Linked DNA regions of Homo sapiens. The protein of the gene in region 2 purifies or fractionates together with the protein of the main gene of each other region. This does not show direct contact. Each region holds a gene or a part of one and is shown on either strand. Other genes may lie near its edges.

Evidence for each region.
Region 1: the proteins of SLA2 (region 2) and DCAF10 purify together in Homo sapiens (affinity purification with mass spectrometry; one large-scale study listed by BioGRID and IntAct). This does not show direct contact.

The regions. Positions count from the first base shown.
Region 1 is NC_000009.12:37,842,226-37,846,046, reverse strand, and holds part of DCAF10 (DDB1- and CUL4-associated factor 10), read right to left. Parts: coding exon 3,761-3,821; intron 1-3,760. UniProt on the Homo sapiens protein: May function as a substrate receptor for CUL4-DDB1 E3 ubiquitin-protein ligase complex.
Region 2 is NC_000020.11:36,629,075-36,632,895, reverse strand, and holds part of SLA2 (src-like-adapter 2), read left to right. Parts: intron 1-197; coding exon 198-301; intron 302-3,821. UniProt on the Homo sapiens protein: Adapter protein, which negatively regulates T-cell receptor (TCR) signaling. Inhibits T-cell antigen-receptor induced activation of nuclear factor of activated T-cells.

The DNA.
Region 1 (3,821 bases), on a different chromosome or scaffold from region 2:
AGTTCGGGTATCAAGGTCATACTAATTTTATACATGATGTAAGAATTCCCTTTTTCAATAATCTGATCAGTTTAATAAAATTAGAATGTTCTCTCTTATTTGCAATATTTGGTAGAAGTCACCTGTAAAACTGACAGACCTGCTCTTTTATTAGTACTGTAGGTAGTTTTTAACTCATTTTTTCCATTTCTTTAATGGCTGTGGCAGAGGTGATATTCAGAATATTTAAATAACAAGCACCGCATGAACACTTGCCAGTCAGAATAGATGCAGATGGCTGTGCTGGAACAGGGTCCTGGAATCGCCATATTGTGTAAGGGGGACTTTTGCTGCTGAATCATGGGAAGGTTTTGTGGGAGGTATCTCTAGAAGAGGGGCCTGGGTAGTCAGAGGGTGTCAGAGGGTAACTCAGGGCAGTGCCTATTTACGAATTGGTATGGAAGAAGTTCAATCTTTTAACAGTACTTCAGCTGAACCAGTACATATTGGCTAAATATTAGTCCTAGTAATAGGTCTATTTCAGGTTTTCTATTTCTTCCTTGGCCAGTTTTGCTAAGGTGTATTTTTTTAGTAAACTGGCTATTTCATCAAAGTTTTCAAGTATATAGGGATAAAGCTCATCTATCATCTTCTTCTATATTGTTGTCTCCTTTTTATTGCTGATATTAGTTATTTATGTCTTTTTTCTCTTGATGAATCTTGCCAGAGAATTGCCTATTCAATTAGCTTTTTTCAAAGAGCAGGCTTTTAAAAATCCTCTATTATATTTTCATTTTTGACATCATCAATTTTATGCTTTTACACTTATCATTTCCATACATCTACTTTCATCGGGTTTATCCTTTTACTTTTTTCCAGTTTTTTGAGTAAGATGCTTAGTTCATCAATTTTCAACCTGTCTTCAGTATGATTTCTTCTTTGATCCATAAATTATTTAAAAGTGAGTTTATAAGTCTCTAAACATGAGAATTTTTAATTAATAACTAAATGATACTAAGAACAGGGAAAATGGTTTGTGTGATAATAGTTCTTTGGTACCAGCTGAAACCTACTTTGTAGTTCAGTACATGCTCAATTTTTGTACTGGTTCTAAGTTTGCTTCAGAGGATGTTTTCACTAGTTGTTGGTAGCAGAAATCTAAATATGTGTAATACATCAAGCTTATTAATAATATTTAAATCTTCCACAGCCTTATCCATTTTTGTTTGTTGTTGTTGTTATTTTTCTTTTTTGAGACAGAATCTCACTCTGTCACCCAGGCTGGCCCACTGCCACCTCTGCCTCCCAGGTTCAAGCGATTCTCCTGCCTCAGTAGCTGGGATTACAGGCGTGTGCCACTAGGCCCTGCTAATTTTTGTGTTTTATTTATTTTTGTTGTTGCTGTTGTTATTGTTTTGAGACAGAGTCTGACTCTGTGGCCCAGGCTGGAGTACAGTGGCACAACCTCGGCTCACGGCAACCTCTACCTCCTGGGTTCAAGTGATTCTCCTGCCTCAGCCTCCCAAGTAGCTGGGATTACAGGTGCCAGCCACCACGCCTGGCTAATTTTTGTATTTTTAGTAGAGATGGGGTTTCTGCGTGCTGGCCAGGCTGGTCTCAAACTCCTGACCTCAGGTGATCCACCCACCTCGGCCTTCCGAAGTGCTGGGATTACAGGTGTGAGCCACCACACGTGGCCTAATTTTTGTATTTTTAGTAGAGATGGAGTTTCACCATGTTGGCCAGGCTGGTCTCCTGACCGCAAGTGATCTGCCCACCTCAGCCTCCCAAAGTGCTGGGATTACAGGCGTGAGCCACCATGCCCGGCCCATTTTTGTCTATCTTATCTAGATAAGTAAATGAGAGAATGCTGTTAATATTTTCCACTGAGATGGAGATTTCTCACTTCTTTCTTGTAATTCTGTCCACTTTTACTTTTTATAGTTTTATGCTATGTTTTTAGGCGCATACAAGCTTTTATATTTTAGTGAAATTAATCTTTTGTTATAGTACCTTTTTATCAGTAATGCTTTTTGTCTTAAACTTTATTTTGTTTGCTATTAATGTAGCCACAACTGTTTTGTCTTTGACGTATAATTGTTTGTTTTTTCTCATCCTTTTACTTTCAACTTTTCTAGGTTTGTATGTTTTAACTGTGTCCCTTACAAAGAAAATACAGTTCTGTTTTATTTTTAATCTAATCTAACACTGTCTATTTTTAACTGGACAGTTTAGCCCATATACGTTTATCACAGTTATTAATATTTGGATTAAAGCTTAGGTTATCTGCCTACTAGTTTTATGCTTTGTGAAATAACAAAAAATATTTTTCCTGAAATTAAGGAAATTTATTTTGTAAGCTAGTTTTCATCATGAACTATACAACTTGGTCTCCTTCCTGTATAATTTTCTCCAACTTTTTAGTTGCAGTATATGACTAGTTTTGTGCTTCCTAATTTACCTGTTCTTTTAAATAATTATCTTTTTTCCTTCCCTTCTCTGCTTCTATGGGATTGATCATGTTTTATTAGTTTTTTACCCTCTACTAATTTGGAAGTTACATTTATATTTCTATTCAAATTTTATTTCTAAATTTTAGTAAACAAATTCATTTAGTAGGTATGCTTGTCTTTGTCTAAAGATAACCAATAGTTTTTGCCTTCCACTCAAAGAGTATGGGTAGCTAGAAATCTCCAAGAATAGCCCCTCTCTTTTTACATATGACCTCTAAAAAGAATATTTCGAAAATGATGGCCACACACAGTGGCTCATGCCTGTAATCCTTGTATTTTGGGAGCTAAGGCAGGAGGATCACTTGAGCCCAGGAGTTCAAGACCAGCCTGGGCAGCATAGCGAGACCCCGTCTCTACAAAAAATAAAAAATTAGGTGGGCATGGTGGCTCATGCCTATAGTCCTAGCTGCTCAGGAGTCTGAGGCAGGAGGATCACTTAAGCCTGGGAGATCCAGTCTGCAGTGAGCTGTGACTGTACCACTGCACTACAGCCTGGGTGACAATGCGAGACCCTGTCTCAAAAACAACAACAAAAACAAATATACACAGAAATGATCATGGTGTGTTTACTATATTATCATTTCACCATAGCTAGCAAAGCAGGCATATTTTAATTGTTTTTCAAACTTCAACTCTTTAAATATCAATTTCTTTATAAGGAGACATTTTGTTGGAATGTTGCACAACAGAGGCATAACTGGCATTTTAGGTGGGACAACTAGTCCACTGTGCACACTGACCTGTGTACTGCAGGAGGTTTAGAAACTCTGGTCCTTGCTGACTACATGCTAGTAGATAGTTCTCTTCCCCCATAGTGACAACCAAAATTGCCCCACGCTTTATTCCTAAACATTCCCTTTGAGATCAGTACCATTCCAAATGAGAACTACTCTTTTAATGCATGAAAACAAAGAACAAAAATTGCAAAATAAATATATGTAGAATTGAGGGAAGAAAAAGTGAGAAACAGTTTAGTTTCACAGGAGAAATAACAAAAATATTTTTCCTTAAATTCAGGAAACTCTTTTTTTATAAGCCAGTTTTCATCATTAACTATACTACTTGGTCTCCTTCCTGTATAATTTTCCCCAAAATTTTTAGTTGCAATATATGACTAGGTACAATTAACAAAATATATCATCACTTTTTGGTTGCTTTTCCTAAAGCCAGTTTCCTTCTTGAGGCTAGGACAGAACACTGAATTTGTTCACCATCTTTAAAAAAAATGTTTTTGTTCATAATCCTAACATGGTCTCCTATTCACAAACCTGTTAGTGTCCCAAATAATGACATTTCCATCAAATCCTGATGTTACTAAGAGTCTTGTAT
Region 2 (3,821 bases):
CCTGGAGCCAGGACTGGGAGGACAAAAATGGCATGGACCTCGGAGACCCTGAGCCCAGCTCTTCGTGGAGCAGATAGAACTCTGAGGCCCAGAGAGGGAGGGCCTTGTGAGGGTCACTCAGCGGTGGTGGTAAAATCTTGGCTTCCCTCTTCCTCCAGGCTGACCCTGTCCCTTGTCCCTCTCTTTCGCTCCGCCAGGTGGCTGTATGAGGGCCTGAGCAGGGAGAAAGCAGAGGAACTGCTGTTGTTACCTGGGAACCCTGGAGGGGCCTTCCTCATCCGGGAGAGCCAGACCAGGAGAGGTGAGTAAGCTCGGTGCCAGCCCAGGCCCTCCCTACGTGGAGGTCTCAGAAAGGAGCCCACAGATATATGGCTGCAGGTGCGGCCCAGAAAATAGGCTTTGCCTGACTTCTCAGTCAACCAAGATTTCCTGAGCCCCAGCTCCGTGTCCTGCCCATATGAACCATGTGGAGCCCAGGCTGGGGGAGATGGAGACAGGCCATGAAAGCAGAGGAGAGGCAGCTAACTTTGGAGCAATCAAGGGAGGCTTCATGGAGGAATAGACCATGAGTGGACCTGGAGGAGTGGACCTGGGATCCTGAGGGATGTTCCCACAGGATCCCAGGCAACAAGACACAGTGGTGCTGGGGTGGGCCAGTGGGCTGCACCTCGGGACAATAGGAGGTTAGAAGTGAGCAAGCTCCAGCACAGAGGCCTTGGATGCCGAGCTGAGAAGCTTTGGTTTTCTCCCAAGGCAGTGGGGTTGCTACTCAGCAGAGACACAGTGCTGGGCGTGTGTTTTGGGGGAAACGAGAGGATGCATTACAGGGACTCTCTGAGTGTGTTCTGTGGGCCACCTGCTTAGAAGTAGAGGAGATGGGGGGTCAGTTTAGGGGACCCCGAAAATCGTATCCTTCTCTGAGAGGTTCACAATCCGTGTTAACACAAGACTTCTTAAGGCGTCGCGTTTGCCTAACTGGGCATTTCCCAAGTGTTTCTGACACAGGAGTGTTTCATCATGCAGCACCAGTCAGAGTCACTCCATGTTCATTCATTCAGCAAATGCTTCTCCAGCACCTATGATGTGGGGAGGCTTCAGGGAAGGACAGGACCTACTGTATGTGTCAGGCCTTAGGCATCTCTGCTGAGTGAGGTGGCCATGGTCCCTGCTCTCAGGGAGCTCCTGGGTCACTGGAAGCCAGTGTTCCATGGCACAGAGTTTGGGAAACATACCTCTATTTGAGATCCACAGTGATGCCAGGGCTTGCCCCTCCAATGCCAAGAGCCAAGTGTGATATGACTTGAGGGTGGGGCAGAAGGCCAAATGTGAAGGGCTGGAGTTCCTAGCCTTGGTGTCTAGCAGTCTGGCTGTCATCTGCCATGTTGCTGCCATGAGAGCCTATCAGCAATAGAGCAAAAATCTGCATTTCTAAAAATAATACAGGCCGGGCACTGTGGCTCACACCTGTAATCCCAGCACTTTGGGAGGCTGAGGTGGGAGAATCACTTGTGCCCAGAAATTTGAGACCAGCCTAGCCAACATAATGAGACCACTTCTCTACAAAAAAATTTAAAATGTAGTGAGGCATGGTGGTGCATCCCTGTAGTCCGAGCTACTTCGGAGGCTGAAGTGGGAGGATCACTTAAGTCCAGGAGTTCCAGGGTGCAGTGAGCCATGATTGCACCACTGCACTCCAGCCTGGGCAACAGAGCCAGACTCCATTTCAAAAAATAAAAGTGAATGTGAATGGCCCACAGTAGGGATCTAGGCTCAGCCAACACATTGGCAACTAGGATTTTTAATAGAGTATAGTCACAGAATTTCTCTGCGTTGACTAGGAGGTGATTCCTCCTTCCCCAAGACACAACATGATTCTGATCTCTTGGCAAAACATTAAAATGGTGACAGGATCTCTTGGGTCAGTAGCCAGTCAGAGCTAGAAACCCACTGGAAGTCATCTCATGGATCCTCCTCGCTCCACTGTACAGACTGAAAAACTGGACCAAAGAGGAGTAGGAACGGGCCACATGCACATTCATGTGGGGCTTCTCCCACCCCAGGTGCAGGGTCTTTTGCAATCAAAACACAAAGTTGATTGTCTCTTTGATGACCCTGCCTCCCTCTGAGCTGCTGCCCCTGAGTCCTTTAAGGCAGAGGCAAAGAGGGATGTTGAAGGAGCAGCAGCCCCCACGTTTATGTTAAGCCCTTTAAGTGACTTAAAACAATGTATGGGGATTGTACTTCCATTGTCTTCATTTTACAGATGGAAAAACTGAGGCTTAGGGAAGAGAAATAATTTGCCTGGGGAAACACAGCTAGTAAGTGCAGAGCCAGGATTCAAACCCAGCCACACCTCCTCTCACTCCAGGCCCCCAAGAAAGGCCCACGTGGGGCAGTAATGTTGGCACTGCAAGCATAGCAACAGACCAGGGAAGGAGGTATCAGGAATGGACAGACCTCCTGGCGCCCGCCTTGATATGAACCAACTGTGATAGGCTGTCGGGACCCTTCGTTCTCTGCCTCAGTCTCCCTCCCAGGACCCTTTCCAGCTTCTTTGTCTCTCCTCTCCTGCCCTTGGGCGTTCTTGGGTTGACCTCTCTGAGGCCCCTCCTGCTATTTTCTAGGCAGCATCAGCACCCCCACCTCACATACATCCATAGGCTGGTAGAGGGGCTGGGGAGGCCAGCCCAGCACAGCAGCTGCAAACAGGAAACCACAGCAGCGTTGCGGAGTGGAGCAGGGCCCCACTGCAGACTGTCCCCTGGAGCTTCAGAAGCCACAGGAAGTGCTCAGTGCTCAGCTCCCCTCCCCTGGCCCATTCTCTGGCCTGGGTCAGCCCCAAGAATATAGTGGCTGGCCCTTATGGCCACTCTGCCCCTTACCTAAAAAGACACAGATGCAAAGAGAAAACTCTGTGAGTGAGAAGAGAAAGCCGTATGGAGACTTTTTTTTTTTTTTTGAGACAGAGTCTCACTGTGTCGCCCAGGCTGGCGTGAAGTGGCACATTTTGGCTCAGTGCAGCCTCTGCCTCCTGGGTTCAAGTGATTGTCATGCCTCAGCCTCCCTGGTAGCTGGGATTACAGGCGAGTGCTACCACACCGGGATAATTATTATACTTTTTTGAGACAGAGTCTCACTCTGTTGCCTATGCTGGAGTGCAGTGGTGCGATCTCGGTTCACTGCAACCTCCACGTCCTGGGTTCAAGCGAGTCTCCTGCTTCAACCTCCTGAGTAGCTGGGATGACAGGCACATGCCACCATGCCCAACTAATTTTTGTGTTTTTAGTAGAGACAGGGTTTCATCATGTTGGCCAGGCTGATCTCAAACTCCTGACCTCAGATGATCCACCCACCTCGGCCTCCCAAAGTGCTGGGATTACAGGAGTAAGGCACTGCACCGGACTATTTTTTTTTTTTTGTATTTTTAGTAGAAACGGGGTTTTGCCATGTTGGCCAGGCTGGTCTCAAACTCCTGACCCTCAGATAATCCGCCCACCTTGGCCTCCCAAAGTGCTAGGATACAGGCATGAGCCACCGCGCCCAGCGGGATCCATGAAGATCTTTAAAGACTCATAAGATCCACATAAGGCCTCACCTGAGGTCAGGAGTTTGAGACCAGCTTGGCCAACATGGCGAAACCCCATCTGTACTAAAAATACAAAAAAATTAGCCGGGCATGGTGGCAGGTGCCTGTAATCCCAGCTACTCAGGAGGCTAAGGCTAGAGAATTGCTTGAACCTGGAGGTGGAGGTTGCAGTGAGACGAGATCGCACCACTGCACTCCAGCCTGGGTGACAAAGCGAGACTATGTCTCAAAAAAA